Regions from separate parts of the Homo sapiens genome. Here regions 1, 2 and 4 are each linked to region 3. The links come from fine-mapping of genetic effects on gene expression. A gene starts in region 3. Each other region holds a variant in brackets. All regions are shown on one strand. Distances are from middle to middle.

Region 1 (8,105 bases), 150 kb before region 3:
TTCTGAACAGCACCTGCTGCCTCTGAGGCTGAGACTGCCTCTGGGTTTCGGGGCTTGCTGGCCCCTAATTCCTGATTAAATGGAATCCCATCTGCTGCAAGTTTAACGGCAGGTTTGTAAGCTTGCTCAAAAAGGAGAAAAATGTGTTGCTGACCTGACTCTTAAATGTCCTTCTGCCGAAAAAGAATCTTTACCCGGATGCAAATTTCATGGCAACGCATTCTGTGGAAACCTCTCTTCCCTGAGAACGTGTTCACAGCTGCTGTGGGGAATCCAAATCCCACTGGGGCAATCTCTGCAGCAAAACATGGTCTCCTGCACCACACATGGCTGACCTGACCATGACTGCCCTCACCACAACTGCCCTCACCACACCCACCTTCAGATGACCTGACCATCGCTGCCCTCACTGCACCCACCTTCAGAGGACCTGACCATCACTGCCCTCACTGCACCCACCTTCAGAGGGCTCATGGTTAAGGCTTCCCCAGCCTGGGACCTCCAGCCTCTTCAGGGCACTCTACCTGCATACTGGGCTTATGGTTTGGGTAAAATTGGGTGAAATGAGTAAGAATGTTTAGAGAAAAAGTATGAGCTTATTCTGTGCTTTTCACCCAGAACCTCCACATTTCTGGTGGAGCGTGGAGAGAAGCATGTCCCCTCCAGGGACACAGCCAGGGGTCCCCTGCAGTGGCTGTGCTTTCCGGTGTGAGGCACATGAGGTCATAAGGCCACCCGCTTGCCCACTCTGTCTTGCTTCCTGTTCCCCTGCAGGCCTCAAGGACATAAGCTAACCGCCCCACCCCCCGACACGGACCGCATGTCCAGGTGCCCCTTGCTCTGGAGAGCAGGGGAGGAGTGGCCTGAGGCTGCACACCCAGGAGCTGCTGGACCAGGTGGGAGGAGGCCAGCCACAAGGATGCAGAATCCTCCCGATAGGGAGACAGATGCATGGAGTTTACCGCAGGGGGTTCATTATGTCCAAAATCGAATTGTATGAGAAACAGTCTACCCGATAGTGGAATGTGTGGCCAGAAATCCCACCCTCACTTTTCGATTCTACACAGAGTAATCTCTCCCTATGAATGTCAGTTATTCTTGTGATTATTCCCATAGCCAGTGTTTCATTTCAGGGATGGAGGTGGTAGTCAGTGCAGTACCACCAGCTGCCAAGTGCAGAACGGACGGCGTTTCAGCCCCACCTGAGCGCGGTCAGCTAGTCCTGCAACAGGCTCATTACGTTCTTAGGCTCAGAGACTTGTGTATCAGATACTTCAACGAACACCATGGACTTCTCCATCTATATGTAATTCTCCTCGATTTTTAAAATACCTTAAAATCAGCATTCAAACCCCTGAATCATCAATATCTTTAGAGGGGGGATAACCTGATACCTCAAACAGAGAATTAGTGTCTCTCTTAAGGGCCAGAGGGATCAGCAGAGGTTAAAAAGGGCAGCCTCAGATCAGGGCATAAGAAGCATCCTTTGAAACAAGACACAGCTACAAAAATAAAACGGAAGTTTAGGTAATCGAGCAAAACACATATCTGCTGATTTTTATCATTTTCAGTAATTTGTTATCTCACAAATGGCTGTGATGCATACACAGGTCATTTTGGCTGTTTTTACCTGCTTGGTCTTCGAATATTTTTGATATGACGACAGGGACGTTGTGCTCAGAACCTCCCTGAAAGACAAAGCCATCAGAAAGAAACGTGGTTATCATGATTCACACTGGAAAGTTCTTCAAAAATAAAAAGCAGGAATAGAGAAAACCATTTCCATACCTTTATACTCAGGCCCAAGCCGCCAACTGGCTGTCTGCGGAGTGTAACAGTTCTGCGCTTTAAAACATTTTAGAAAACAAACCAAGTTTAGGTTAAAATGCACTATCAGAAAGTGAATTCAAAAGAAATTCTTCATTTAAACCCAAATACGTGTTAAATTATATTTCCAAAGCAACTTTGGCTAAATATGACAGTAATGACACTATTTCAAATCTTTACTCCGTGGTATTGCACGTATGAAAACGAAGACAGTGATAAAGAATAGGCCCCATTCCAGGCATTGTCTGAAATCCAGGAAGAATCCCCACAGAACTGTCATCCCGTCTGCATTCTGCTTGTGAGGAACGGAGCTCCATGAAGAAACGAGGGGTCCACCTTCTCCCAGGTGGTGAAAGGGAAGTGGGGCGGAGCACTCAGTCCTGTTTTAGAACCGCTCTCTACCCACCAACCCCAGGACCGGCTCACGCTTCACTGTACGTCTCTGCTGAAGTCAGCCGTGTTTAGGACAATCTTCAACCAATATTAATTCATGAATGATCCATTTTTTCACGTCCTCTGACCACAGATGTCTGGGATATTTAAGGGTAGGTTGTGATAAAAAGCTAAAAGCACAATAGGCCTTTAACTGGCTAGTGAAATGGTAAAAAATCTCCAAATCTCTTGCGCATTAAGCCATGCACCTATGTTTTGCTGTGGTCTAATCTGATGAATGCGACTGTTGCCAACTTCAGGTAGACATGAGTGACTGGTGCTGCTCTGAGGGGGCGCACAGAGGCAGCCTGGGGTAGACGGACAGTGGCCAAAGGGTGCTTTTACCTCAAAAATACACTACAGGAAAAACAGAAGTGACAGACATTCTTTGAGTTCTAAGAGGAAACATGAGCATGTTCAGGCTGAATGGCTCTGAAAGGAATCTGCTGTGCAAAGCAAGGACAAAGAAGTAAAAGGGTGGCAGAGCCCACGCCGAAGGGGGGACCTGGGAGCTCCCGCCCCGGCCAGCGGTGCAGGTGCAGATGCAGGGAGGCTGCTGTGAGGGCTTCCGCAGCCTGAGATACCCCAGGAATGTCCTTCTTAGGGGGAAATACTTCATAAACTCAAAGGAAAGAAACCAAAAATTAGAGCAAATATACCTGTGTTAAAGTGTGTATATGGGGACACAGCAAATAATACTTTAATTGGAAATTTTACCATTTCGATCCTTTTTGGACATATAGTATTTTTAACTGACAAAAATAATTTTATACACAGAAAAAGAGCCGTATTTCGGGGGCTTTGCTACAGAGTGATCGTTTTGGCTTTTTCTTGGTGTTAGACTGTATTCCAGATACTGTGAACAGCAAAGTCAGAGCCACTCCTGGGACATCCATACCACGGGCTCTCATTGCATCCACATTCTCAGTATTTACCTGAAATGCCACAGATGCTTCCCAGTGACACTGCACCAATGGACAGAGTAACAGGCTCTTAAACCTGCTCATCAAAGCATTACTGACAACAGCCAAGATATGGATACAACCCAAGTGTCCACCAGTAGATGCGAGAATAAAGAAGATGCAGTAGATACACCGAATGGAACATCCTTCAGCCATAAAGAAGGAAATCCTGCCATCTGTGGCAACATGGATGAGCCTGGAGGACACTGTGCCGAGTCGAATAAGCCAGGCGCAGAAAGACAAATACCACACGGTCTCCTGCATGTGGAATCTAAGGATGTTGAACGCAGAAGCAGAGGGTAGAACCGTGTTTACCAGGGGCGTTCAGGGTTGGGGGGCGGAGGTGCAGGCCAAAGGGTGCAACATTTCAGCTGTAAGGTAAACAAGTTCTGTGGCTCTAATGGAAAGCATGGTGACTATGGTTAATAATACCATATTTCCTTAAAATTTGCTAAGAGAATAAACCTTACATGTCCTCACCACAAAAAACAAAGGTAACTGTAAGAGGTGATGTATGTATTAGCTTGTTTGTAGTGTGCATTTCACAATGTATATGCATATGAGAACATACCCTGTACACCTTAAGCATGTACAATTTTTATTAGTTGTAGCTCAATAAAGCTGAATAAATAAATCCCATTATGTGGACAGAGGGTTTCCAAGGATATCCTCTATAGAGGAGGGAGAGGGAGTTACTCCTGCATGTGGGAGGCATACCGTTTTCCTCCTCAACACATGGACGGTTGACTTTGCAGGCCAGAATGCATCTCACAATGAATGTGGACTGCAGAACCAAGGGGGGGTTCATTCCCTCCCTCAGCAGACGCTAAATTCTGTAGTGTTCATGGCCAACTGAGGGAGTGGGGAGAAAGGCGTCCGTCCACCTGCCAGCTGCTCCTCTGTGTGCCACAGCAAACAGCCTTACGCTTCTGAGTTCTAAGGCTATGGAGGATGAGAAAATTGAATTATCTACGTCATAGTAACTGGAGGCCTCTCTGTATGGAATTTCTGAAAATGCTCAATAACATTTTAAAATTGTAGCTGTTAGTGTAAGTATTTGAAACTCATGCAAGCAAGTACAAGA[C/T]GAGAGAAAATACATTTTGAGAAGAAACAAGTTAGTTTCTGCCTTGATAGACTGCCAAAGAATGACATTTTAAAACTGTCATTTGACTCACTTATACATGTCAGGAAGATATCCTGAAATACCCTAAAATATCCTTGATATTTCAAAGAAAATATCAAGAAACTGATCACCTGTGGTAAAATCTGGACTAATATTCTTAACAAGATAGGTAAGAAAAAAATTACACCATTAACAACCAACATAAATATATGTTTACTGGAATGTGAAGGGCTTGTTCTCTATGATTTTAGCTAAGCCAGAATAATATTTATTTCATACCTGCTTTGTGCAGTCTCTTGAAATGTTCCTTTCTGTGTACATTTGTACTAGCCATTTAGGTATTTAGGTCTCTAAATCTCTCTAAAATCAAGTTTCTGCATCTGGAAAGTGAGAGCTGTACTGTGAGCCCTAATAGGAAGTGCTGGGAATGGGACTGTGTCCCCCTAAAATCCGTGTTGAAGTCCTGACCTCCAGTGTGACTGCATTGGAGGTAGGGCCTGTAGGAGGTAACTAAGGTCAGATGAGGTCATTCAGGTGGGCCCTATCTGATAGGGTTGGAACAGGAAAAGACAGCAGATACAGCGCTCTCTCTCTCTCTTTTTTTTTCTCTTTTTTCTCTCTTGCTCTTTCTCTCCCCACCCCCACCTCGCTGTCTCTACCATGTGAGGACACACATATAAGGCCTTTGCCTGCAGGCCAGGAAGCTGGCCCTTGCCAGTAACTCTACCATATGAGGACACACCTATAAGGCCTTCGCCTGCAGTCCAGGAAGCCAGCCCTTGCCAGTAACTCTACCATATGAGGACACACCTATAAGGCCTTCGCCTGCAGCCCAGGAAGCCAGCCCTTGCCAGTAACTCTACCACATGAGGACACACCTATAAGGCCTTTGCCTGCAGGCCAGTAAGCTGGCCCTTGCCAGTAACTCTACCATATGAGGACACACCTATAAGGCCTTCGCCTGCAGTCCAGGAAGCCAGCCCTTGCCAGTAACTCTACCATATGAGGACACACCTATAAGGCCTTCGCCTGCAGTCCAGGAAGCCAGCCCTTGCCAGTAACTCTACCATATGAGGACACACCTATAAGGCCTTCGCCTGCAGTCCAGGAAGCCGGCCCTTGCCAGTAACTCTACCATATGAGGACACACCTATAAGGCCTTCGCCTGCAGTCCAGGAAGCCAGCCCTTGCCAGTAACTCTACCATATGAGGACACACCTATAAGGCCTTTGCCTGCAGGCCAGGAAGCTGGCCCTTGCCAGTAACTCTACCATATGAGGACACACCTACAAGGCCTTCGCCTGCAGTCCAGGAAGCCAGCCCTTGCCAGTAACTCTACCATATGAGGACACACCTATAAGGCCTTCGCCTGCAGTCCAGGAAGCCGGCCCTTGCCAGTAACTCTACCATATGAGGACACACCTATAAGGCCTTTGCCTGCAGGCCAGGAAGCTGGCCCTTGCCAGTAACTCTACCATATGAGGACACACCTATAAGGCCTTTGCCTGCAGGCCAGGAAGCTGGCCCTTGCCAGTAACTCTACCATATGAGGACACACCTATAAGGCCTTCGCCTGCAAGCCAGGAAGGCAGCCCTTTGCCAGTAACTCTACCATATGAGGACACACCTATAAGGCCTTCGCCTGCAAGCCAGGAAGCTGGCCCTTGCCAGTAACTCTACCATATGAGGACACACCTATAAGGCCTTCGCCTGCAGTCCAGGAAGCCAGCCCTTGCCAGTAACTCTACCATATGAGGACACACCTATAAGGCCTTCGCCTGCAAGCCAGGAAGGCAGCCCTTGCCAGTAACCAAACCCACAGCACCTTGGTGTTGGACTTCCACCTCCCAGAACGGTGAGAAGGGAGTCCCTGCTGCCTAAGCCAGCCCACCTGTGGTTCCTTATTACGGTGGAGCCCAAGCTGCCTCAACAGGAGTGAAGGAAGATCACTGTGGAAAGCACCTTACAGACCATCAGGTTTAACAAAAATACCAAGGTGGTTAGTTTTATCCATGAAAAATCGTTATTTTAAAACCACCTCATTCAAACACCAGGACTTCAGTGTGTCAAAGTTGAGAGAAAAGGCTCAGCCAATTTGTGTTTTCACACTTTTAGAAATGAACATTATATAATTATGAAGGCTCTAACATTTTAACATTAGCATATCTAGGAACTTTACTTTTCAAACCAAGATTTATAAAACTTACTGGATGATAAAAAGTAAACAGGAAAACTTCTGCAGCTTCTAACTGGAACTTTTCACACAGCAGCCTGGCTGAAGTTATCCTGCCTCCTGCATCCTAATTATTTTATGACCCCAGAGGCAACCCACAGCTGATCACTTTAATTTAAGGTTCTGGGTAGCATTTCCATAGTGCTCTGTTAGCTGATATCTAGACAAACTAATGTCATCAAAAGGCATTTCTAATGCAACCAAAACAGTCCGCTGCCTCAATGCTCTCCCAGTACATACCCCTTAAAGTCAAGGACCCACAAGCAGGTGCGGATCGTGAGCTGCCCCGAGGCTCATTATGAATCTAATTTATGGCCTGACTCCCCTATTCCATGCGTTCCCCCATAATCACGGCCTCCTCACTTACCATACTCAGGGGCTCCAGGGACTCACCAAAGGAACAAATTCAGAATACAATCGAATGTATCATAAAACTTCTACAGAATGGAGGTTGCAATCTAAGGTAATTGTTCAATAAATTATTTTCAAAGTCAATCCTGCTTTTCTTTTCACAAACATATCAGATAAAATCTTTCATAAAATATTATTCTGCATTTTATCATTTAATCCCAAACTATGTTATGACATTTAATTAATGTTCACATCTTGGTAGCAGCATCATTATATTAATAATAGAACATAGCTATCTCCACATTATCTTCTGACCACATATTTTAAGAACGAGCTATTTTCTATGACATAGATAACTTATCAATTATACATTTCTCATCAACAAAAAAGTGGTTTGGGGGTATATAAGATCATATTTCTTATTCTGGTCTTCTAAAACATTGTTCTTCAAGTTATTACTGAATTACATGTATGAATGGGCCTCACAATTCTACTTCAGATATTTAAACTGTGGACTTAACACTAAATTTAAATTTGTTATGGCTGCAAACTCATGTTCAGATTTTAATACTGCAGTTTCCAGAAAGATTTCAATCAGTTCTACAGGTAAAACACTGCGCCTGTACCATGGCCACCAGCCAGGACCCTGCCCCCAGGTTTGTTCAGCCCAAAACCCTTCTTGTGGTGAGGACAGGATGACCTGGGGTGTTAATCCCCCTGCTCTCTCCCCAGGTCCTCGTCGATCCCCCTCCCTTCCCTGGAGGTCTTACTCCTCACACAGGCCTGGCCTCACTCTTGTAAGGAGAGAATGGAGATGTGGGAAAGGCGAGGGACCTAGAAAATAAGGGTTTTTTTTTCTCTCTCTAATTGAAGGGCTTGAAAGTTAAATTTTAAAAATTAGAAATTTATAGAAAAACAATTCTGAAGTATTCTATTTCACACCCACACATGAAAGATACTTTCAAAAATACTCATAGAGTTTTATTTCAGAAAACAATGTGCTAACAGACTTCGCCCTGGGGCTATGTGAGGGGGCTGTTGAGTCAGGAGGCATTGTTTCTTCCACAGAGTTGGACATTCCCTTTGCTTTAGCAAACACTCTATAAGGCATTTTTCAGAATGGGGCATTGAATCTCTCTCCACTTTTTAAAAGTAATTCACTCAAATAAAATTTCCT
Region 2 (8,105 bases), 110 kb before region 3:
GCACGGCTGAGAGTGGGCTTGATCATGTTCAAATTTAGGAGACAATGACAAACGTGGCCATCAGAGTTACTGTAGAGCCATTTATATTCCTACCAGCAACTTATATAATTCCAGTGAGTGCACACTCCCTCTAATTAAGCTTTTTATTTTCAGTCAAATGGTGTGAAAATCCTTCATTGTAGCATTTGTGTTTCTCTCCTCTATTACACTCATGTTTGTTATTAACATATTACTTCTGTGAAAGGCCTCTTATGTCTAATTCCATTTTTCTGATGTATAATTTGCATTTTTATTGTGATACATATTTCTTTGTTATAGATTTATAGTATATATTCATTTTTTCTTTAGTAATTGTTTTATTTATCTCTGCTCTTAAATACTACCAAGTAATATCCAAGAATAATGGAATATTTTTATATTGCTCCATTCCAAAGACGAAGTTCAGAAACCTGATCATTGACACCTGACAAGAACTGTGAGGGTTTTAAGATTTTACCTAAGTTCAAGCTAACACGTTATCCAGCAACAGCGCATGGATGCTGGCAGAAGACATGAGATGCCTGGCTTGGAGACAAAGGACTAAAGGACTTCGTTACTCAGAGACGAGCAGGACACAGAGCACCCACAATTTCCTTTATGATTTCTTGAGCCTGCTATCCCATGAAGCACCAAGAGGGCCAGATGATTGACAGCTGTATACCTGGTGGGTTGCATTACAGAAGAGAAACTCTGAACGTAGGAAACTTTGAAACTTTAACAACGTTCAATAAGCATGCCTGCCCTTTTATCAGAGGCAAAACACTTCCTCAACCTCGGAAAGCTGTTTGCTGCACAAACATCCTTGAAAAGGTTGTCTGGAACAAAGGCAATCAGCACTTCTGCACACAAGTTGTGCAGAAATGTGACCCCATTGATCATGATCTCACAATACCTTTCTATTATCTAATACACATATTCCATTTTTGTTAATTGCCTTAAAAATGTTTATCATCATTCTTTCCACCCCAGCGTCCAACCCAGGATCACACGGCTTTGTGCTGTCACATCTCTTTAACCTGTTCACCTTTTGTCATTCTTTCCACTCCAGCGTCCAACCCAGGATCACGCGGCTCTATGCTGTCATGTCTCTTACCTTTTCACCCTTTGTTTACCTTTCTTGATCTTGACTCTTTTTTTTTGGAAACATGGGTCAGTTATTTTGTGGAATGTTCCTCAGCTGAAGTTTGTGTGATTGTGTGAGGGTCACAAGTTTACATTTCTATCACTGTTGTCCTTCTCATTTGTGGTGTTAATTTTGATCACTTGGTTAAGTTGTGGACCCGCAAGTTTCTCCACCCTAATGTTACCATTTTTTCCTTTGTAATTTATACATAATTCAGGGGAGGACCCATTGGGACTGTGAACATATCCTGCTCCTGGTCTGACTTCACCCACTGGTTTTAAATCCATTGATAGCTTTTATTATAACTTCAGCATTTGTTTTCAATTTGTTAGTTGGCATCTAACTACAAGTACAGCTTTTTCTTCTTTTCCATTTATTTATTCACTTATTTCAGTATAAACTCACTATTTCATTCAAATAGTTATAATTTAGTATCATTCTTAGGTTCATATTTGAATTATTCGAGGCTTGGCCCATGGGACACTTTCAGGCTGACCTTTCTGCCCTTTACACCTGTCACTCTTCCAGATGAACCTTATACTTAACACAATGCTGGAGCCAGACTGTCCTCAGGGGCCCTGGTTCCCTTTTGTGAAGAAGAAGGGCATTTAGAATCCAAAGCCGGGAGCTGGGGTTCTCATGCTAGAGGGTGTCTTTGGTTCCAGGACTGCTCAGTGCTCCACGGTAGGACACTTCTATCTCTGTATCTATGCACTTCTCTCTCTCCAAACACACACACAGTACACACATACACACGTGTATTAATACCTACATATCCATTAGATAGGTATCAATATTAAACAACTGAGTTCACACTGGTATCGTTATTTCATTTCTTGAAAGTGAACCTTTGGTTTCCTCTGTGTAATTTTCAGTTTGTAACTTTTTACTTCCTTTAATTTAAATGTTTTATTTTAGTGTAATTACATTTATCAAACCTTTCATTTATCCCTAAAGTCTTTTAGTCTTGGTGTTAAACATCTTTCCTACACTAAGGCCTGCAGGTAAGAGTACATTCCAGTTTGTATTATTTTTTTGATATGATGTAAGGTAGGGATAAAATGTAATCCTACTTCATGTGGCTAACCATTCTTTCCATCTCTTTATATAAAATATTTTATTTCCACAGTGATCTGCCATGCCACTTTTCTTATATATCTCCTATTTCTGAGCTCTATATTTGATTCTACTGAACTTTTGTACCCCTGATCCAATATAACTCTGTCTTAGTTTATATAGATTTATGGTATGTTGTAGTAATTAAATGGAAAAATCTACCTTCCCAGTACTTTTTCAGATATGTCTCAGTTTGTTTTGGATCTTTAAGCTTTAATGTATTCTAGATTGTTTTTTAAAATGGTCTCTAAGTAAAGATTAAATTTTAAGAACTTTTGTCTAAGATTATTCATGTTATGCCCTCTGAGTTATGAGGGTTGAGGGAGTTTTATATTTCCATTGTCAAGGTTTTCCTTATACTTCAAAATTCCACAAAAGAGAAATTTATAAAATAAAAAAACGTATTTAGATGAAATAGTAAAGATTACAAATTACGTATCCAAAAGATTAAAGTTCCAAAAAATGTTCAAATCCAATTGTGACTCCAAGTTTCCATTAGAATCTCAGAACACACTTGTATTTATAAAACCTGTGGAATCCTTCTAGTAAACTTCACATTGTAGAAGCTTCATCATCTTCCAAATGTTTACACAGATATCTTGACTGATTATTATTATTTTTTTTTTTTTGCCCTTTTGCAGCTGAAAACTCAGTCCAGGAGGAGAAGGACCTGTGATATTTGGCTTTCCCAGGAAACTCCTACATTCCTTCTCAAGATCAAATCTAAAAACAGGTTTGTAGAATATTCACTCCAGCTCTAAGAGATGGCAGAAGGTGCCAGGAGTCCATTGCCAGGAACACACTTTCCTCAGTCTCGTAAATGAAACTGCACAGATGGCAAAGCTAAGCAAAGGGCACTGCAAGACAGTGGGCAATGCAGTTCAAAGACGAAGGTGAAAGATGTATTTGCTTTCCTGTTTTTCTACTGAAGCAGCAACTGGGACAAGGAAGGAAATGCTGCCCAAAAGTGAGCCCAGCTAGAAGACAAATGGCAACATTTGAAGACGGAGCCCAGGGGTGGTCCCATGGCTGCCATCCTGCTCTCCCTCCTGGGGAGACAGTTGTGCAGCAGCCCATCTCAGAGAGGGCACTGGACCAGTGACAGCAATGAGAGCCTTCAAGGAGGGCTCTGGCACAGGGAAGCTCAGTTCATCTGACTTTCATTAGGGGCCACAGGCTTGTGTGGCACAAACAGGTGCCATTAGTTAGGTACAACCAGATGTTTTTGATGGTGCTTGAGATGAACCATGAGCCTCTACAAAGACAGGCTGGTCACTTCTGATGAAAACTCCACCCTCTAGCCAAGGATGATGCTACTCCCATGCAGGTCCCCAATGTGGGGGACACTGGAAATAGCAACCAGGGTTCACCTTCTGCTCAACCAAACTTTAATCAGACAAAAGCAGACAGCAGCAGCTGAGGAGACACTAGGATTTTTGCATCTATGCAGTAACAGGTATTGTGGAATTATATGGAAAGCAATCTATTTGTCCATAATCCAATACAGAGCAAATTAAAATACTGCCAATAAACCCACTAAAACAAACATTATGTAAGATGAAAACAGGGAGAATTTCAAAGAAACAATGTCACATAATTTCCAGTGTCCTTTATTCATTTAACACTACTGGTGTGTTGTTTGCTTTTTTAAAAAAAAATCCAATGCCTACTCTGCCTGTACTTTTACCACATGCTGTGGACACAAAGGTCAGAGACAAGACAGAGACACTACCCTCATTGAGAAGACATACATCTCCATTCATTATCTTTTTTTTTCAAAAAACTGTACTCTAAATTTACGTGTTGGTAGAAAAATACTAATTTTTGACACACAATCATATCTCTTAGTCAGCAACAACTGATGAACAAGGAAGATAAGAGCAGAAAAGAATGCAGATACAAATATAAGTTATTTATATTAATTCAAATATAATTTTTTAAAGCTTTTTATTTTTTGTCTTTTTGAGATAGTGTCTCCCTCTGTCACCCAAGCTGGAGTGCAGTGGCGCCATCTCAGCTCACTGCAGCCTC[A/G]ACCCCTGGGGCTTAAACAATTCTCCTGAGTAGCTGGGACTACAGGTGTGCGCCACCATGCCACCTAATTTTTTTTAAATCTTTTGTAGAGATGGGGTCTCACCATGTTGTCCAGCTGGAAGATTTTTTTGAAATGCAACTTTATACTAATTGTTTAAATATAGAAAGATCCTGTGCACATTTAGAGGCATTTATATTTTGCCACTTGTGATGGTTAATAGTGAGTGTCAACTTGATTGGACTGAAGGATGCAAAGTACTGATCCTGGGTGTGTCTGTGAGGGTGTTGCCAAAGGAGACTAACATTTGAGTCAGTGGACTGGGAAAAACAGACCCACCCTTAATTTCAGTGGGCACCATCTAATCAGGGCCAGTGCAGCCAAAATATAAAGTAGACAGAAAAACATAAAGAGGCTAGAATGGCTTAGCATCTTTCTCCCGCACTGGATGCTTCCTGCCCTCGCACATCGGACTCCAGCTTTGGGACTCGAACTGGCTTCCTTGCTCCTCAGCTTGCAGACGGACTATGTTCACACTTGTGAACGTGTGAGTTACTACTACTTAATATGCTCCCCTTTACATGCATGTGTCTATCCTATTAATTCTGTCCCTCTGGAGAACCCTGACTAATACACCAACTCTCCTTTCAGGCATACAGAAGAGAATCAGGAATATGAAATACAGCCAGAATAGAGATAAAAATGAAGTTGATGAGGTATAATTACAGAAAGCACAGTGCAAATATTAACACAGTCTTTTATGAATAGTGCCATGTTAGTCCTTAGAATAAATACATTACAGTTGTAATTCACAGCTTCTAGCAGAAATAGGCCAGCTGCTTGCAGGACAGGCCTGGCCCCAGCTCCCAAGCTCAGAAAGCCCCGTCCAACCCTGCACTCACAGGTCCTGGAGGAAGCGGCATGCATCGTTCCCCGCAGCACAGCGCTGCGCCGCCCTCTCCTCCCTCCCCACGGGGTGGCCCCGCGCTCTCCCTCCCTCCCTCCCCACAGCGGGGCGCCGCGCTCTCCCTCCCTCCCTCCCCACAGCACAGCGCGACGCTCTCCCTCCCTCCCCACAGCACAGCGGGGCGCCGTGCTCTCCCTCTCTCCCTCCCCACAGCGTGGCGCCGCCCTCTCCCTCCCGCCCCACAGCACAGCGCGACGCTCTCCCTCCCTCCCCACAGCGTGGCGCTGCGCTCTCCCTCCCTCCCTCCCCACAGCAGGGCGCCGTGCTCTCCCTCCCTCCCTCCCCACAGCGTGGCGCCGCCCTCTCCCTCCCGCCCCACAGCACAGCGCGACGCTCTCCCTCCCTCCCCACAGCGTGGCGCTGCGCTCTCCCTCCCTCCCTCCCCACAGCGGGGCGCCGTGCTCTCCCTCCCTCCCTCCCCACAGCGTGGCGCTGCGCTCTCCCTCCCTCCCTCCCCACAGCGGGGCGCCGTGCTCTCCCTCCCTCCCTCCCCACAGCGTGGCGCTGCGCTCTCCCTCCCTCCCTCCCCACAGCACAGCGCGACGCTCTCCCTCCCTCCCCACAGCACAGCGTGGCGCTGCGCTCTCCCTCCCTCCCTCCCCACAGCGGGGCGCCGCCCTCTCCCTCCCTCCCCACAGCGGGGCGCCGCCCTCTCCCTCCCTCCCCACAGCACGGCGCGGCCTCTCCCTCCCTCCCTCCCCACAGCACGGCGCGGCCTCTCCCTCCCTCCCTCCCCACAGCACAGTGCGGCCTCTCCCTCCCTCCCCCATGCACTCTCCCTCTCATCCACTTTCCTTAACTTATTCAACTCCTTCCTTCAGAATGAAGCTGGAGCCCATCCGCAGGGAGTCCTCCCCGTGCTCTTGGTGGTGTGGACCAGCTTCCCACCAAGATGGGAGCCAGAGGAGCCGCCTGGGTCCCAGCTGCCTCACCCCTTCTCCCTGTGTCCACTCTGAAACAGTGGGGACAAGGAGCCGTCTGAGAGATGAAGCTGCAGTCCCCGCGACCCACCGCATGTCCAGGACAGATCAGACCCTCCAGGAAATACCGCTGGTGAGATGAGACTGTCTTCTGTCTGGGCAAGGGCTAATTTGCATTCAGTCGTGCCCCAGCCTCACTCCTAAAGACACCTGCTCATTCTGCACATCAAGGGAGGGCTGGTGCTGCAACTGAATGGAAAATACAATTCAGAGCCATCAAAATAAAGGCACGGTCACCTTAGAAAATGGAAATGTTCACACTGTTAAATCCTTCATGATAACCCTAGGAGAATGGATAAGATCAATTACTGTTCCGGGTTTCTTCCAAATCTGAATTTCTGCAACATGGTTTGATCTCTATGAATGACTAACATTTTCATATTAAAACTGATAAATAGTTGTACCTGCTACTTGATAAAAACATTTCTGGCATCACACTGACTCAAAATTAGTATTTTTGTCTCGATGGGCATTCAGCACACTGATCTAGTGACGTCCATGAAAAATCCTGACCCACACAAGGCAGGTTGTGAGCCTCCACAGTGGGTGGAAATGCATTCTTTCTGTGTGGGTCATCAGACACAAGGCAGGTCGTGAGCCTCCAGTGAGAGGAAATGCATTCTTTCTGTGTGGGCTCATCAGAAAACGGTACCCACTCTAGGCAACAGCACTGGAAAAAGTCACCTACACAAAATGAAAAACTTACAGAAAGAAGCCCCGAGCAGAGCGGCCCCAAGCCATGAACTGCACAGTCAGGCAGATGGCCTGGGCCGGGGCAAGCTCACATTCCCACTCCTCTCACACAGCCCCTGTTTCGCTGCCCATGACATGAAGCCACTTCTCTCTTGGCTCCCTGCAGTCAGGGCCACGTCTACAATGTGAATGCAGAGTTAACAGCATTTATAGCAACACACAGCAGTACCTGACGTGGGCTGCACAGAGGAGGTAACAGCATTTATAGACTCACACAGCAGTACCTGACGCAGGCTGGATAGAGGAGGTGAGAGGCAATTGTTTTCTGAATGAAATAAAGACCAAAGGAATCAATAGGGAAAAAAAAACAAAAACAAAAACAAAACAAAAAAAGCCATCACCCTGGCAATATTTTTAACTTCTAAAATGGCTAATTTTCATCTCATGTATTTCAAATGCTTAATAGTAGACCCTAATTACAATTACATTATTCTGTTTTACTTTCTTCATTTTCCCAATTTAGATTTTTCATTTGAAAATGTACCTCTTTGAAAATCCAAAAATACATCAACATTAACTTCAGATAATATTAACAAGTGATATTCTGATCCAAGGTCTGGGGAAAAGACTTCATTAGCATGGGGCTTAATTATGCTATTGCTGTGTACCCTGGGGTGTCTCAGGAATGTGTCACCTCCAGGGGGTCCCAGAATCACCAAGGCGGCTCTGTGGGGTTCACAGGGATATTACTGAGACCTTCTCTAACATCTCTAGCCATGTAGGACTGCATCCTAAACCTGCTAGGAAGAGTGACAAAACCACAGTAGGAGCTTGGGATTTCCTTTCAGGAATCCTTCAAACTCAGTCAAATAGAGAGCCATACTGAAAATCCCCGAAGCCCTCTACGTAAACCCCTCATTAGAGTTAGATAATTAAAAATGCTAGATCCTAGAAGAATTAACCAATTCCTTGGCACGAAGAAGAGTGAACTCCTGGTGCCGTGAAGATGCTCCAGCCACAGCCCAGGTGTGGGCCGCCTCTCTTGGGTGGGAACGGCTGAGGTCTGACGCTTAGGGATGCAGGAGAAAGGGCCAATTTCCACCACCTGACAAGGTGGCAGAACACCCCCGAGCCGCACCACGGGAAACAACCAAAGGT
Region 3 (8,105 bases):
GCCAGAAAATCACACTGCTTAGTAAGTCTATCCTGAATATACCCATTTAGTAAATAGGAGGCCTGCGATGCAAACACACCCTCTGTCACCGAGAACTGCAATGCCAGCCCCTCTGCCAACTCACTCAGAGCCTCATGGGGTATCTTGAGAAGCAGATCTAAATTAAAACTGAAGCTTAAATGCCTTGTCTACAGTCATCATCCATAAAGATATCCAGAGACAAGAAGCTGTTGCTCCACATACACCATTCAGAAAACAAGGCAATTTTAACATCCCATGTTGGAAAAAAACAAAAACAAAAACAAGGCACACTTTTCTTAATTGGACCTCATTCAAATATTTACTGGGGAACATGTCTCCATGTCTCCTGGTAAAGTCAGGTAACTGCCTGCTTTGTAATGCATGGATTTTGCTTATGATGTCATAGACGTCAATAGAAATTCTACAGTTGAAATTAAAGATGAGTCAGCAAGGATGAGAAACATAACCAAAGCATAGAAGGAATGGGGAACCTTCTTAGGAGCTCAGATGCTTCATTCATCTCATGCAGCAATTCACATCTGTAAACAGATGATTAGGTGGTGCCCTTACCCCACATGCACCTTTAAAATGACCTAACGTGCTTTCCCCCTTCAGTGGGCAAGCTCATCACATAAATGGGCATGTTCCCGGCTCATGCCAATAATTCTTCCAGCGCCCCAGACTGAAGAAGTGTTGTCATTTAAAAGCAGCAAATGTGCTGTAAACATCAACCAATAGTAGTCTTTGAAGCTACAAGCAAGACACACTTCGCACATTGTACTGAGGTTGTCTGCCAGTGGGATTTTACCCCTCAAATCCAGGTATGGTCAGAGACAGAGCTCCATGAACTCACTTAACTTAGAAAAAAACATCGGGAACAGGCACTTGAAAGGGGAAACAAAACAGGTCTGTTACCGAACAGGAGACCTTCAAACGTGGCCAAATTCCATGATTCAAACAAGCAGTCATGATAAAGAATGTGTATAGTTTTGACTTCAGATAGAAAAAATATAACTAGAAATATAAGATTTAGAAAAGACTTTCATCTTTTTCTAGTTAAAAGCACCAAGTTCTCTTAACTGAAATGATTAAATAATTACACAAGTTGAATAATATTGTGCAGTTATGGTAAGAAAATAATTCTGCCATTAAGTAAGGATGACATTGTATACTAAGAACATTCATGTTTTCAAGACAAACCTGCCAACACCAATACTTAACAGATTCGTTTTAAATACATAAGAATCTGAGCTAACATGACCATGCACTGGTGTCTAAGGTAGGCTTAGCACATACCTAATTACTTATGACTGCAAAGTTAGGAGTCTTGCTCTTAAAATGCTCCATCTTATTGTAATACTTGGCCTCCAACGCTAAAAAAAAAGTTTCTTTCAATACAATTCAGACAGGCTGTTTCAAATAATCAAGGTCCTTATTAGAAAGAAAGCGCCAATCACATCTTGTAGCAAACAGGTGAGCAGAGGCCACTCTTGACTGGAAAACATCAAATTTAGCACCTTAATTAATACTGAGCGCAAAGGAGAGCATTTACTAGAATACGCGCAGTTGCTTTATTTGTTGACGTTATTGCCAATAACTCATCAAGTGGGTCAATCATGAAGTATGATGAATCCACTTCAACGCTTCCGCTATAATTACAATGATTAAAAGCAAGAATTGCTTTGCTCGAATGTCTGGAGAAAAATGCACAATCCCTAACCGTGGGAGGGCATCATTATAAAGCTGAAGGCAGTGACCAGACGGAAAGCCTGTGATTCCACAGCGCCTGCAGTTTTTACTGCGGTTTATTTCCAGGTAATCCCCGCATATTTTCTCGGGTTTGATTACCATGGGCAACAGTGGGATAGCTATTCATATTACAAAGTACTTCAAGAAACGAACACCCACATTTTACATGAAATTTAATTTTCATATTTTGTAGTAAAAGCCCAGAAAGGTGCTACTTGAATGAAGATGCACCTGTCTCTACATAGAAATCTTTTTAACATCACAGTAGCGACGACCACAGTCCTAGTTTAGAATCATTATTATGACGATAGGAATTTGTAGCAGCCCTCAACCCGTGGCCTTCTGAACCGTCTCTCCACTGTCCTATAAGGGAGGGCTAACTGTATTCCTGGTCGCTCCTGGGACTGGGAGCTCCTGGGGAAGGAATCCTAAAGGAGTGGTTGTCAATGCATTTTCATTAACAGCCGCGCTTCTCGGCAGCCTCCTAGGGCTGGGGTGGCCACGTGCTCCCTTAAACTGTTTTCACAACTCGAGGCTGTGCTGTGGGTGGCAACTTGAAGGTTTCCAAGAACTTTTCGTTTTTCTTTGGGCCAACATTTCTGTTTTCTGTCAATCAATAGTTTAGTTATTTAAAAATAAGAAGGTGAAGAGGGAGTTATTTAGGGTGGGAACCAGAATAGACTTCAAAAAAGAAATCCGTATTACCCAGTTGGCGTCCCAGCGGTTCCCCGAATGGCCTAGAGCCCCCAGCACCTGCCGAGGCCGCGCCATGCACCTGGCTGGGCTCAAACTGGCCAACTCAGACCTGGCCTGGGCGCCCGAAGGCTGCAGGGGGGACGCTCCGGTCCGAGCCACCGCCTGGGCCCGAAAGAGCCGCTCCTGGGAAGCAATGCCGGGCCAATCTCAAATCCCAAATTCTGGAAAGCACTACTTCCCACGCAGTAAAGGGAAGCCCGGGCGCCTCAAAACCAAACCTTGGAAGACGCTGGAGGAGCAAAGCCTGCAAGTTTCCAGTAAGACACTGGGCTGGAGGGAGCAGAGCGGCCAGGGGGCGGGTGCCCACTGCGTCCCGGGGCTCCGGCGCCCACCCTCCGGCCAGCCGTCCCCGGAGACAGGGAAGGGGTCGCGGGGAGCGAGGGGGCGTGGAGGGAGGAGGGGCGGGGGGAGAAGGGCGCGAAGGAGAGGGAAGGGGGGCCGGAGGTGAAGGGGCGCTGAGGGGCCGCACTCACCCGCGCAGGTACCAGCAGGCAGCCCTGGCGTCCGCGGGAGGCGGCCGGGGGCGGGGGTCCCTCGGTGCCCATCGCCGCCCCTGCGGCTGGGTCCGCGCTCCGGGCCGGCCGAGCTCAACGCCAGGACCCCGTCCGAGCCTCCCAGGGCCCCGCCAGGCGCCGCGTCCGCGCCCGCGCCCCTCTGCCGGCTCCGGCTCGGGCTCCACCGGGGCGCAGGGCTGGGGAACCGGAGCTCCGCCCGCCGACCCGGAGCACCGCCCACGCAGACCCGCCCCGGGCGAGGGAGGGGCCGGGCGCGCACCCGCGGGGAGGGCGGCGAGCGGGGATCAGCCGAAGTCGGGAGAGGGGCGCTTCCACGGGGCGGGAAACTGGCGCGCGACTCTGGGGGAAGTGCAGGATGGGGGGACAGGGGCGCTCCCGCGGGGGTGGATGGGGGACCATAGCGGGGCTGGCGGGGCAGGGGCCGGCGCACGAGGCTGGAGGAGGGGAGCGCGCGCTTCTACCCGGGCTGGGTCGCCGAGGTCCGCGGCGCATCGTGGCGGCGGTGGGCGGAGGGGGGCGGGGGGCACCTCTTCTCCCTTGTGGCGCAGGTGGGCGCGCTCTGGACCGGCTTGACGACCCCTCCCCGCCGCCCCACCTCCCTGGCCAAAGGTTCTCAGCTTCTAATCAGGGACATTTCTAGTCCACAGCCTCGAAGCCATGGGTTCTCCCCGGCCCTCTGAAGCCGCCACACCTGTGCCAGCCGGCCGCGTCCTCAGACCTTTCCCCGCGGAGTCTTCCCAGCACTTGGAGACGCAGCGCAGGGCCCCGAGGACGGCCTGGCCCGGAGAAAAGATACCGAAGCTCCAACTTTCCCCAACCCCGCTCCCCTCCTCCTTCCACCCTCCCTTCCCGCCCCCAAAGCTCGGGGGTCCTATCCCTCCTCCGGTCCGCGGAGTCTCCCGAACCCTGCGGGGACCCGGCGCTCGGCGGTGCCCTCCTGGGGCGCACGGGGCTGGGGCGGGAGCGAGGAGACCAGGTGGGGAGGGGACCCCAGATCTCAGACGCCAGGGGAGACGGCGTTTCCCGCTGTTCATTCAGGTTTGTGCCAAAAGGAGCCTCACAGATGCAGTATTGGGTTTGGTAGACTCAAATCGTCTTGTTTTAATGTAAATGAAAGTAAGTTTAGGATAAATTCCAGTGCGGCGGGGGCAGGCAAGGCTACCCACATTTTTTAAAAAGAAGCCAGCCCGTATTTTTCTCCCTTTCCAAATCCTCCGCCCCCCAGTCCTTCGACCCAGGCACGAGCGCCCATCGCGGAGGCCACGATGCCCGTTTTATTCCCTCTCCACGGCAAGGAAAAGCAGCGAAATCTGAGGTCTTCAGAGGTTAACCCTATCTAGGAGCAGAATGTGACGCATTGTAAACAAATAAATATTGAAAACTCGATGTTAAACACTTTACTTTTTCTGACTCCGACTTGCTTGACCCCTGAGCAGACCTGGGTTTCGAACACAGACGCCCTTCCCCATTTCTCTATTCTCTGTATTCCTGTTTCACCTTCACGGCAGTCTGCCAGCACTTCTTAGCACTCAGTTTAACCAGAGGACAAGCTCTTGAATAGCAAAAACCAGGTCTTTTTATACGTGGCACAGTGGCTGTTACAAAATATGCTTCTTGGGTGAATTGGTAAAAAATATTGTATTACTTTTTATTTGTAGCAAAACCTAGAATAAGAAAAAGTACAAGAGATTATTGTTTGCCTTTAAATTGCATTTTTAAAAGAGCGTGCATATAATCTCTGAGAAATTAAATGTCTACAAATAGCACAAAGATATTGTCTCATTACCTTGCAAAGGGACATTCTATTCCAGGGCCTGAAGAAGGAAAAACAGCGTGTTGCATGCATAAATGTTGACTTTGAGAGACAAGTTTTTGTTAAAATTTTATCGTTAAATGAATAGACACATATATTTTTGTTTTTCAGACCAAAGGTAATTGTTAATTCATTTGTAAAATAATGTAGTTTTGGCTAACAATCTCTGGAATCCTTTCTATAATAAAATTTTGTGATTCCAGGACGTCGTAGGCGCTCTGGGGCTGCTTTTGAAAGGCTAATTAATTCAAGTTTTAACTGCCTATCTGCTTTTATGCATCTGTGTCAGGACTGCACGTAAGGGTTATTTTGCTTATTTTAAATACTAGGGTTCTACTGCAATAACAATAACAATAAAAAGTAAAACCCTGACTATCCTGAAACTCTGCGAGGGAATGTCCCCCATGAGGTTACCAAAATTCAACTTTCTGGTTTTTGTGATGAGTATAGCTTTGATTCTGAGATGTGTCTAAAACCAGTTGCAGTTAGTGTCTCTTTATTAACTTTTAACTTTGAAATAATTCTGAATTTACAGAAACTTTCTAAATGTAGTACAAAAAACTCCAGTAACCCCTCATCCTCATGGGTATGTTCCAAGACCCCCAGTGGCTGCCTGATACCGTGGATAGTACTGAACTATGTATGTGTGTATATATATGTATCAATTGCATGCATATATATATGTATCAATTGCATGCATATATATATATATATATATATGCATATATATGTATGCATCAATTGCTGACCAAACTGATGTATGTGGCCTAGACAAACTGGAAGATGCCCTGGTCAAAAGGCAGGAGCAATGAGGTTGTATTTCAAGGTAAAAATACAACCTTGAGGCCGGGCACAGTGCTTCACACCTGTAATCCCAGCAATTCGGGAGGCCAAGGCAGGTAGATTGCTTTGAGCTCAGGTGTTTGAGACCAGCCTGGGCAACATGGTAAAACCGCGTCTCTACAAAAAAATACAAAAATTAGCCAGGCATGGTGGCATGCACCTGTGGTCCCAGCTACTAGGGATGCTGAGGCTGGAGAATCCCTTGAACCCTGGAGGCGGAGGTTGCATTGAGCCGAGATCATGCCACTGCGCTCCAGCTTGGGCGACAGAGTGAGACCCGGTCTTAATAATAATACAACCTTGGCCTTGTCATTTTTATAGTCAACATATTCAGAATGGCCAGGTACATTGTCTGTTACTAATGAGACTTTATATTCCAACCTTCCCCCTTCCAAGGCTTTGGGAGGAAGTACTGGTGGAGCCCTTCCATAAACATGGTGGTTACCACTCATGCTTTCTGGTTATGTTGCCTGAACACAAGCAGGTAACGTTTGTTTTTTGAGCATAAGTGTTCCTCTGTGTGTGCAGCACACCTGGCTTGGCCACACGTCCTACAGCATTGCACACGGCACAGGGTAAATCAGCCCTTCAGTGTTTTATGCCCTGGGGCCTTCTTTGCCCTTTCAAGAACGTAGGTTCTGTTGGGTATCTTCTTCCAGAGGAGCCTGGTCTCACTGCAATTGAAGACTTGCTTTGGATGGCATCCTTTCCCTTTAATCAACTTCAACTCTGCCGGAAATATGGCAGCAGCTTCTTCACTGGCAAACACAGCCTCTCCAGTTTTTTGGTTTTTGGTTTTTGGTTTCGTGACAAGCCCACTCCTAAATCAGTGTAGCTATGCCTCACTTGCCATGAATGGCTCAGTGTCACTCACTTTGGGGGACTGACTGCTGAAGTCTTCCCATGGGATTGTGCTTTCTGCGCTGACGTGCCCTCGGTGGGAACACCTTTCCGCTCATGTCTTCTACCTACAAGTTCAGCGTCTTTTCCGTCTTAAATAGGCACTTATCACTCACTGCAGCCGTAACGTTTGCAGTTTGAAATGTGATAGCAAAACTAGCATGATTTCTTTTTTATTTTTATTTTTATTTTTATTTTTATTTTTTATTTTATTTATTTATTTTGAGATAGAGTCTCACTCTTGTCGCCTAGGCTGGAGTGCAGTGGCGCGATCTCGGCTCACTGCAAGCTCTACCTCGCTGGTTGAAACAATTCTCCTGCCTCAGCCTTCTGATTAGCTGTGATTACAGGCGCCCACTACCACGCCAGGCTGATTTTTTTGTATTTTTAGTAGAGATAGGGTTTCATCATGTTGGCCAGGCTGGTCTCAAATTCCAGACCTCAGGTGATCCGCCTGCCTCAGCCTCCCAAAGTGCTGGGATTACAGGCGTGAGCCACCATGCGCAGCTGGGTTTCATTTTCGAATTAACTTAAAATACTTTCTGGACTGACAGCCTTGTGGGAACATCCTTTATATTGCTTGATTTGCTAACTGAACCTATTCCCCCTCCAGGCATAGTCTTATTTCTGCAAGGAAGACCTATTACCTTCCTGTTTCACACTTGGTTACCATTCTGTAACTAGTTTTTCTGCCCCTAGAAGTTTCATTCTTACCACACTGGAAATCTTAGCAATTTCATCATACATTTTTTTCCTTTCCTTATTAAAGTGAGTACTTTCACTTTTTCACTTAAGGAAGCACTTTATGGCTTCTCTTTGCCCTAGTCTTGTGTTTGGGGCCAATACTGAATAAATTAAGCAAGACTTGAACAGAAGCACTGTGCTACCTGGACAGTCAATTTATAACCCAGACAGCTACTAAGTGTCAGGATGTGTGGTGCACACAGTGAATTCATGGGACAGAGAAGGCGTGAGGATTCGCCATGCTTCTCAGAACAGGGCACAACTTCACTCTTATGAACTGAGAGGGCAACTTACATCCTGAGAGGCACAAAGGCGTCGGTGTGAGGATTTGCCATGCTTCTCAGGGCACAACTTCACTCTTATGAACTGTTTATTTCAGGAAATTTTTATTTAATATTTTCAGACTGCAGTTGACCACAGGCACCTGGGACCACAGAAAGTGAAACCGCACATAGCTGGGGCTGCTGTGCCCTTGATCTTTCACTCAAGTCCCAGGTAATACTCAGCTTCTCTCTATTTATATGCAGATTACTTTCCATGAAACCTGTTCAGAGTAATTTGCAGAAATAATGTGCCATTTCCATTAAGTACTTAACAAATGTTTCCTAAAAAAATCAAAAGCACTCTCACGCCTGCACAGAGTATATTCATCACTTCTATTCTGTACCGGTAGTGGAAGTCCTAGCCTAGCACTTAGGCAAAAGAAAGAAATAAAAGGCAACCACATTGGAAAGGAAGAATTCAAATTGTCCTTGCTTGCAGAG
Region 4 (8,105 bases), 220 kb before region 3:
TACCATATTCCTTTGTGAAAATTAAGATATTGAGAAACTTGGAGAACTCTGGGGGAAATAAGAATTGCTTAACTTTTAAAGGGTAGTTGTCAATTTTACTAGATGAAGAACTTTTCTTTTTCATTGACCACTGTTTACTGTCTGGTGAAGACTCTGCTGTGGACCAGCCACTGCTCCACACAGCACCCAGAGCGTTTCACAGGGTTGTTGAGACAGCACCTGAATCTGCCCTTTAGCGTTCAGAAGCACATTTCACTGTTATCTATTTGAAATTCTTTCCCAATGCCTGTTATTTTATACCCGTAATCACCTTATCAGTAATTGGAGAGGAAAATCAAAATATTTTTAATGACTGCAGTCTTCCAAAATCCCAAAGTTCATGCTATAGACAAAGGAGACACATGACTAATGGCAGCAGATCCAAGCCACCATTGACTGAATGAGCTAACAGGTAAATAGTCAATAAATTTACATTTGACAGTCACGCTTCCACTCTAAATTTCTATAAATTTATTTCTGATGAATAGGTATCTTGTCATCCATATCCCAGAACAGAAATGTGAATAGTTATATCTTTCTTCTATCACAAATAAAAGTCCATTATTTTTTAAAACCCAATATCAAGAATTCTTAATGAGAAAAATAGACTTAGTTTATTTTTATTAGGTGTCAAAAATAAACAATCATATTAGAAAACATGTAGTATATGATCAATGTTTATTAAAACACCTAATCTTAAAAAAAATTAACCCTAACCTATCAAAACTGCTTAGATTACCCTCAGGCAATGCTGGTTGGAATGTAAAATGGTGCGGCTGCTGTGGAAAATAATTTGGCAGCCACTCAAAAAGTTGAGCCTAGAGTCACCAGAGGACCCAGCAATTCCAGTAGTCGGCATCCACTCGGTGGGAAGGAAAACATCTCCCAAGAAAAACGCATTCACGGATGCTCATGGTGGTATAATTCACAATATCCCCCAAACAGAAGCAAGACAAATGCCCATCAGCTGATGAATGGATAAACAAAACCCATACAAAGGGTATGTACATGGGTCCGTATACACAGATATATTCCCTAGGACGGATGCTGTTCAGCTAAGAGAATGCAGCACCGATGCCCGCGACATTGGGGGCGGACTCTGAAACTACACTGGGGGAAGATGCCAGACACAAAGGCATCTTTGTGCGGGATTCCATTACAGAAAACGTCCGGCGCAGACGGAGATCCTCATTCCAGGTCGGATGCCACGGGGTTTGAGCCACCAGCAGATGTTGACTTCAGGGGAGCCTGGGCCTGGCCTTCAAGGCCCTTCCTGATTACCCACAAAGAGACAGGAAGGAAATTCCCGGCTGCCGAGGGCTGGGGTGGGGAGAGTCCGGGCTGACTAACTGGCACAGGGTTTATTTTTGGGATGAGGGAAATGTTTTGGAATTAGACAGTAGCAATGCCTCTACAACGTAGTGAAATATTTAAAACTGCTGAAGTGTTACTTTAAAACGGTGAATTTTCTGTTGCATGAATTGTATCTTTATAAAAAGACCAAGAGCCTGACTTGTGAAAAATAAAACCCTACTTTGACTCAGTCTCAAACGGTTGTTTATTTTCTCTTTGATAAACGTTTTAAAATGTGGAAACTGGACATTTTCCGCACAGATCTGCCGTGATACTCTCTTTCCCCACTCACTGGAGCTGCTCGGTGGATTTCTGCTTCATGCAGTCAGAAAGTGAAGTCTGCTCAGGCACAGCAATTTTACCTTCACGGTGTGAATTCAGCAGAGGACGTTTCGCCTGAATTTATAGAGAGATTATGGCTGTCTTGCTTAAATTGTTATGGATACTAAGATTTTAACATTTTTCACTGTAAAGAATGAAATAAAAGGAGAATAGACACTTATTGAATTAATGGGGACTCAGCACCCCTGGCCTCTGTGATCTGCACCCCAGGCTGCCCTTTCCTGCATGTGCCCGAGGACGTGTGGGGTGGTCCGTGTAGCTGGGCCTGTCCAGGCAGAGCCATCAGAGTCAGCACAGCCCCGCTCAGGATGCCGGCAGCAACGCTCATTGAAGTCACTATGTGACTGGCAATGGACCCCGGAGCCTGCAGGTTTTAGTGGAGCCCACGGACAGAAGTCAGGATGTGAATCTCAACAGAGACAGCCTCCGGCCCCACAGGCTCAGGCACTAGAATTGCAAGAGCTGCCCATCCTCAGAGGGAAACACAGGCTCAGTGCTATGGGGCTCTAGGCAGGGGCTCACGGTGAAAACCTCCACCTGGGGCACTTCCTCTGCCATCTGGTGTTGCAGTGTTGCTGCTGCTGTTGCTTAAATTCTGCTCCTTCAAAGGCACCCAGGGAAGCTGGCTTAGACGCAGCACCCATCTCACTCGGCCTGTGAAGTCACCTTGCCTGAGAGAGAAGTCAGGAACGGCCCCAGGGTGAGTGTCCTCTGCCTCCCACCCCCACTTAGCAACATCCGAAAGCACCCCCTGCTTTCTGTCTGTCTCCTCCTTTATCAATGCCACCTCCTCCTGTCCAAGCCACTATCTTCTCTTCTTTTCTTTCTGGCAAAAATCTATGAAAAGTCTTAGTTTCTTCCTTCGTGAGCCTGTATGGTCACAGCTGCTGCAGAATCTGCAGACACTCACGCTGCCCCCTCACAAGTGAGTCCTCCTCCCCCATCCGAGCTCACTGCTGGGCCTCCTGATGTGCGTCTGACACCTGAGTCTCCCTGCTGGCTCCAAGAACTTCTGTGCAGCCCTCAAGTCCACCCCCTTCCCAACTCACAGCAACGTTTCTCAAAACCCCAGGGGTGCACCACTGTGCCGCGTGTGACATTTCGCTCCCTTAAACCTTTGCCCCATTGCTAACATGTTCTGCCTCTACGGCCCTGGGAATATTCGCCTTTCTCATGCACAGCCCCTCAGCACCCCTTACTCTTTTTCCTCAAGAACCCTCTAGGTCTTCATTCATGCTCCCGTGGCTCCTTCTAGCAGAGGGAGTGGTCTCTGAGGATGGCAAGGCATGCAGTGAATCTTACTGATCCAGGTTTGCTACAATGGCAGGAAGATCGATTTTCCTAAGATTGTGAATAGCATAGTTATCCTGCTGTGATCGATGGGAAAAATGGAGTTGCTGAAATGGATTTGTTCCTGGTTGCTCAGGAAGATGAAAGCAGAAGTCATGCTATGAGTCTAATGATGCTTTTGATCAAATGCTGAAACAGGAAAAGTTCACTTGTTCCCCTTGCAGGGCTTGTGATGGGGGAGTGGCTCGCTTCTTCGGTGCCCCACTACTCAAACCTCTGGCGGGGGTGCCATAGAGATGGGCCGGCTTTGGGGCTCTGACCCCTGGCAGCATCTAGGGGTGGATGTTTCCAGCTCCTGAAGCCCTAGTGGGAGTGTGTTCCAGGGCGCTCTGTTAGTTCTGCCGTCTGTGGGCGGCCTGTAGGCTTCAGTTCTGCCGTCTGTGGGCGGCTTCTAGGCTTCAGTTCTGCCGTCTGTGGGCGGCCTGTAGGCTTCAGTTCTGCCGTCTGTGGGCGGCCTGTAGGCTTCAGTTCTGCCGTCTGTGGGCAGCTTCTAGGCTTCAGTTCTGCCATCTGTGGGCGGCTTGTAGGTTTCAGTTCTGCCGTCTGTGGGCGGCCTGTAGGCTTCAGTACTGCCGTCTGTGGGCGGCCTGTAGGTTTCAGTTCTGCCGTCTGTGGGCGGCCTGTAGGTTTCAGTTCTGCCGTCTGTGGGCGGCTTCTAGGCTTCAGTTCTGCCGTCTGTGGGCGGCCTGTAGGCTTCAGTTCTGCCGTCTGTGGGCGGCTTGTAGGCTTCAGTTCTGCCGTCTGTGGGCGGCTTCTAGGCTTCAGTTCTGCCGTCTGTGGGCGGCCTGTAGGTTTCAGTTCTGCCGTCTGTGGGCGGCCTGTAGGCTTCAGTTCTGTCGTCTGTGGGCGGCCTGTAGGCTTCAGTTCTGCCGTCTGTGGGCGGCCTGTAGGCTTCAGTTCTGCCGTCTGTGGGCGGCTTCTAGGCTTCAGTTCTGCCGTCTGTGGGCGGCTTCTAGGCTTCAGTTCTGCCGTCTGTGGGCGGCTTCTAGGCTTCAGTTCTGCCGTCTGTGGGCGGCTTCTAGGCTTCAGTTCTGCCGTCTGTGGGCGGCTTGTAGGCTTCAGTTCTGCCGTCTGTGGGCGGCTTCTAGGCTTCAGTTCTGCCGTCTGTGGGCGGCCTGTAGGTTTCAGTTCTGCCGTCTGTGGGCGGCCTGTAGGTTTCAGTTCTGCCGTCTGTGGGCGGCTTCTAGGCTTCAGTTCTGCCGTCTGTGGGCGGCTTGTAGGCTTCAGTTCTGACGTCTGTGGGCGGCTTCTAGGCTTCAGTTCTGCCGTCTGTGGGCGGCCTGTAGGTTTCAGTTCTGCCATCCGTGGGCGGCCTGTAGGCTTCAGTTCTGCCGTCTGTGGGCGGCCTATAGGCTTCAGTTCTGCCGTCTGTGGGTGGCTTCTAGGCTTCAGTTCTGCCGTCTGTGGGCGGCTTGTTGGTTTCAGTTCTGTCGTCTGTGGGTGGCTTGTAGGCTTCAGTTCCGCCATCTGTGGGCGGCCTGTAGGTTTCAGTTCTGCCATCCGTGGGTGGCTTGTAGGCTTCAGTTCTGCTGTCTGTGGGTGGCCTATGTTAATCAGCTCAATTAGACCCTCTGCCTTATCGCAAGGACAGAAGGCTTTCTGTATCCCGGGGTTCTTGCCTTAGCATACCAGAAGAATCAGATCCCACGTGAGCTTGGAGGGTTGGCACAAGGTTTTATGGAGTGTTGGTAGCTCTCAGAAGATGGATGGAGAGCCAGAAGGGGCATGGAGTGGCAAGGTGGTTTTCTCCTGGAGTCTCGTCCAACCACCCCAGCCAAACTCCACATCATTCTGCCAGTCGATAGCCTGCCAGTGTCTGCTGGTGCCTGTCAGCATACTCTTCC[G/A]CTCCTCTGCTCTTCTCCACATCCGGCCACTTGTGTCTCTGCCCACTAGGGTCTTGGGGTTGTTATAGGCATAGGATGGGGGCGTGGTAGGCCAGGGTGGTACTGGAAAACGCAACATTTGGGTGCAAGAACAGGAGTGCCTGTCCTCACTTAGGTCCATGGGCACAGGCCTGGGGGTGCAGCCCTCGCCAGGGACCCGCCCTTCTCCTCCCAGCACTTCCCTGCCCCCCTCCTGTATCAGTGAAAAACCCAATGCATGATCAGAACTCAACTACTGATGTGCCTGAGAGCTACAGCCGGGCCACTCGGGGCAGGAGAGAAGGAAGGCATTGACAATAGGGACATCAATGGAAGAGAGAGAGAAAGTAAAACAGTCAATATGAACCCCCAGGGAGGGAAGCTGTTCCTTCCCATGAGAGAGTGACAGGAAGGACAGCCCACCAGCCCCCATGAGAAGGAACCCGACTGTCGGCTCAGCGGGAGGTCCTCATTCCACATCGGATGCCCTGGGGTTTGAGCCACCAGCAGATGTTGACTTCAGGGGAGCCTGGGCCTTGCCTTCGAGGCCTTTCCCGATTACCCACAAAGAGAGGGCAGTGATGCCCTCTGCTAAATCAAAGGAACGGTGGTGACTCCAACCTTTATAAAGCCATGACAGCTGAATAACATTAGTAAAAGTTACAACAACTATCTTCACTAAAACATTTTTCTAGATTTAGGGTTCATCACTTTCATATTGGGTCACAATTCAAGTATAATAGAGGATTACAAGCTTTGTGCCAAAATATGTCAGGGACTTCATAGCATAAATGTACCATTATTTTCATTTTTTGCACTGAAAATTTCTCAGATCAACATAGGTATTTTACGTGTAAACTTTGCTTCTACGTTAACATATAGATAAATACAATCATGGTGAGTTTGCATGAAGGAACGAGCATGTAGTTAAGTGACGAGAAGCACAGTCGAGAAGCACGGTCTGATAACACTTCCTTCAAAAAAGCCCGTGGATGTGTTAAAACATACAACGTCATGGGACTACATGATGCCACGGTGCCTGCCTATACTTTTCTTCTCTCTGAATGTACACTCAGCAAATGATTAATATCCCAGTCCATGTGGTAGCATTTGGATAAATAATGTGGCAAGAAAGGAATTTCTCCAGCACCCTGGCATTTCTCCTCTTCCCACTTACCTAACGGGAGCTTCAGAAATGCCGGCGCTTCCCTGAGATACTCAACGGTGATGGTAACTTCATCGCCAGCATTTCTCAGCAGATGCACCTGTCAATATGACAAAAATAGCTACTTTTACCACCACAAAAGAACCAGACACAGAATTAAAAAATAAAATCTCTCTACCTCTCCTGTTTCCCAAGAATTCAAAGTTCATAGTTACCTCTGAAACACGGAAAACTTTGTGGGCTTCAGCTGGAGTAAAGAAGAGTGGTTATCACCTCCGAGACCACCTACCCCCCACACTCTATCTGCGTAAACAAGTGCATGAGTGAGCAGGGGTCTGCCCGTATCATCCACAACACATCACAGGGATGCTCTCTGCATCCCTATGAATGCAATCTACCAGAAAATAATACCCTCGGAGAAATCAGTTTGTTACTACAAACAGCCTGTGTTCAGTCACTGGCAAAACATGGATTAACTGTGGCAAAACAAACCACAAATACTAATTTAAATATTTAAATGATGCTTTAGTTCTCAGGAAATTAGTGGCTATCACTTCAAAAGGATGGAACTTAGCTCTGTGCTGGAGTTTCAAATTATACAAACTGTTTCAGTCACCTCACATACAATCCCCTACGTTTCAACACAGCATCTAAAATCAGCTTTTTGTGCACAATGTATTTGCCATTGTTTAAATCTGATTGAGACACTAAAAGTCTAGATGCTGCAAAGCTGTGTGTGTCAGAATTCACTGCACCTGCATCTGTGTCTTCCCATAATGCATAACCCTCCTCTGCTGTATCCTCCTCCTCCGAGGCCAGGTATAGCCCACCCGCCCTCTCCTCTACACAGAGCCTGCCAACAGTTTGGGCAAGTTCCTACCTCACTTCATCCTCCTAGGCCAGGTATATCCCCATCTCACCCTCCCCTCTACATGGAGACTGTCCAAAATTTGAGCAGGTTCCTGCCTTACTTCATCCTCCTAGGGCAGGTGTATCCCACCTCGCCCTCTCCTCTACACAGAGACTGCCCACAGTTTGGGCAGGTTCCTATCTCACTTCATCCTCCTAGGCCAGGCATATCCCACCTCGCCCTCTCCTCTACACAGAGACTGCCCACAGTTTGGGCAGGTTCCTACCTCACTTCATCCTCCTAGGCCAGGCATATCCCACCCCGCCCTCTCGTCTACACAGAGACTGCCCACAGTTTGGGCAGGTTCCTACCTCACTTCATACTCCTAGGCCAGGCATATCCCACCTCGCCCTCTCCTCTACACAGAGACTGCCCACAGTTTGGGCAGGTTCCTACCTCACTTCATCCTCCTAGGCCAGGCATATCCCACCCCGCCCTCTCGTCTACACAGAGACTGCCCACAGTTTGGGCAGGTTCCTACCTCACTTCATCCTCCTAGGCCAGGCATATCCCACCTCGCACTCTCCTCTACACAGAGACTGCCCACAATTTCGGCAGGTTCCTACCTCACTTCATCCTCCCAGGCCAGGCGTAGCCCACCTTGCTCTCTCCTCTACATAAAGCCTACCCACAGTTTGGGTAGGTTCCTGCCCCACTTCATCGCTCCCTCTGATCTTTCCTCCTCATTTCTTCAGTCACTTTCCATGCCCGTCATTGCCTACCTGGAGGATTACAGTTCTGCACAGCTCCCTAAGACACCTGATGTAGCTTGAATGGGTTTTGAAGACTGGATTTAGAAAGTTTGAAAGTTCCCATGGCCTGAGATCCAACATAAATGCCTTCCTATTTCACCTGAGGACATTTCTATCTGGCATGGCTGGTCCACCTCCACCACTGGTGCTCCCTCCTGGCCCTCTGAGCCACCCCACCCCGGCCATGCCTGTGGACAACCTTAAATATGTCGGTGCTTCACATAGATCTTGACCTCATAGGACAGCCTCATCCCTTTTACCTCATGAAATCCCACTAAAAACTCCAGACTGGAAACACATCTGCAGAAATGCTCCCGTAATGCCACTGAGCA

What was found.
Region 1: its variant is fine-mapped to the expression of SNTG2 in esophagus mucosa (GTEx, PIP 0.98).
Region 2: its variant is fine-mapped to the expression of SNTG2 in esophagus muscle (GTEx, PIP 0.99).
Region 4: its variant is fine-mapped to the expression of SNTG2 in whole blood (TOPMed, PIP above 0.99).

The regions. Positions count from the first base shown.
Region 1 is chr2:1,091,936-1,100,040 of GRCh38, reverse strand. SNTG2 (syntrophin gamma 2) reads right to left here. Exons shown (of 17, transcript NM_018968.4): 3 at 1,789-1,845; 4 at 1,631-1,688. Among named protein-coding and RNA genes, the nearest start is that of SNTG2-AS1, 140 kb to the right of the region's middle. The variant C/T (reference allele first, on the strand shown) is at 4,306.
Region 2 is chr2:1,054,164-1,062,268 of GRCh38, reverse strand. The region is part of intron 1 of SNTG2 (syntrophin gamma 2); the gene reads right to left. Among named protein-coding and RNA genes, the nearest start is that of SNTG2-AS1, 110 kb to the right of the region's middle. The variant A/G (reference allele first, on the strand shown) is at 4,310.
Region 3 is chr2:945,963-954,067 of GRCh38, reverse strand. It overlaps SNTG2 (syntrophin gamma 2), which reads right to left and starts at 3,219. Exons shown (of 17, transcript NM_018968.4): 1 at 3,000-3,219. The coding sequence starts at 3,071. It overlaps SNTG2-AS1 (SNTG2 antisense RNA 1), which reads left to right and starts at 2,676. Exons shown (of 3, transcript NR_136151.1): 1 at 2,676-2,783; 2 at 3,682-4,157; 3 at 4,267-4,434. RefSeq lists a silencer at 3,181-3,310.
Region 4 is chr2:1,163,654-1,171,758 of GRCh38, reverse strand. It overlaps SNTG2 (syntrophin gamma 2), which reads right to left. Exons shown (of 17, transcript NM_018968.4): 7 at 6,124-6,211. Among named protein-coding and RNA genes, the nearest start is that of SNTG2-AS1, 220 kb to the right of the region's middle. The variant G/A (reference allele first, on the strand shown) is at 4,929.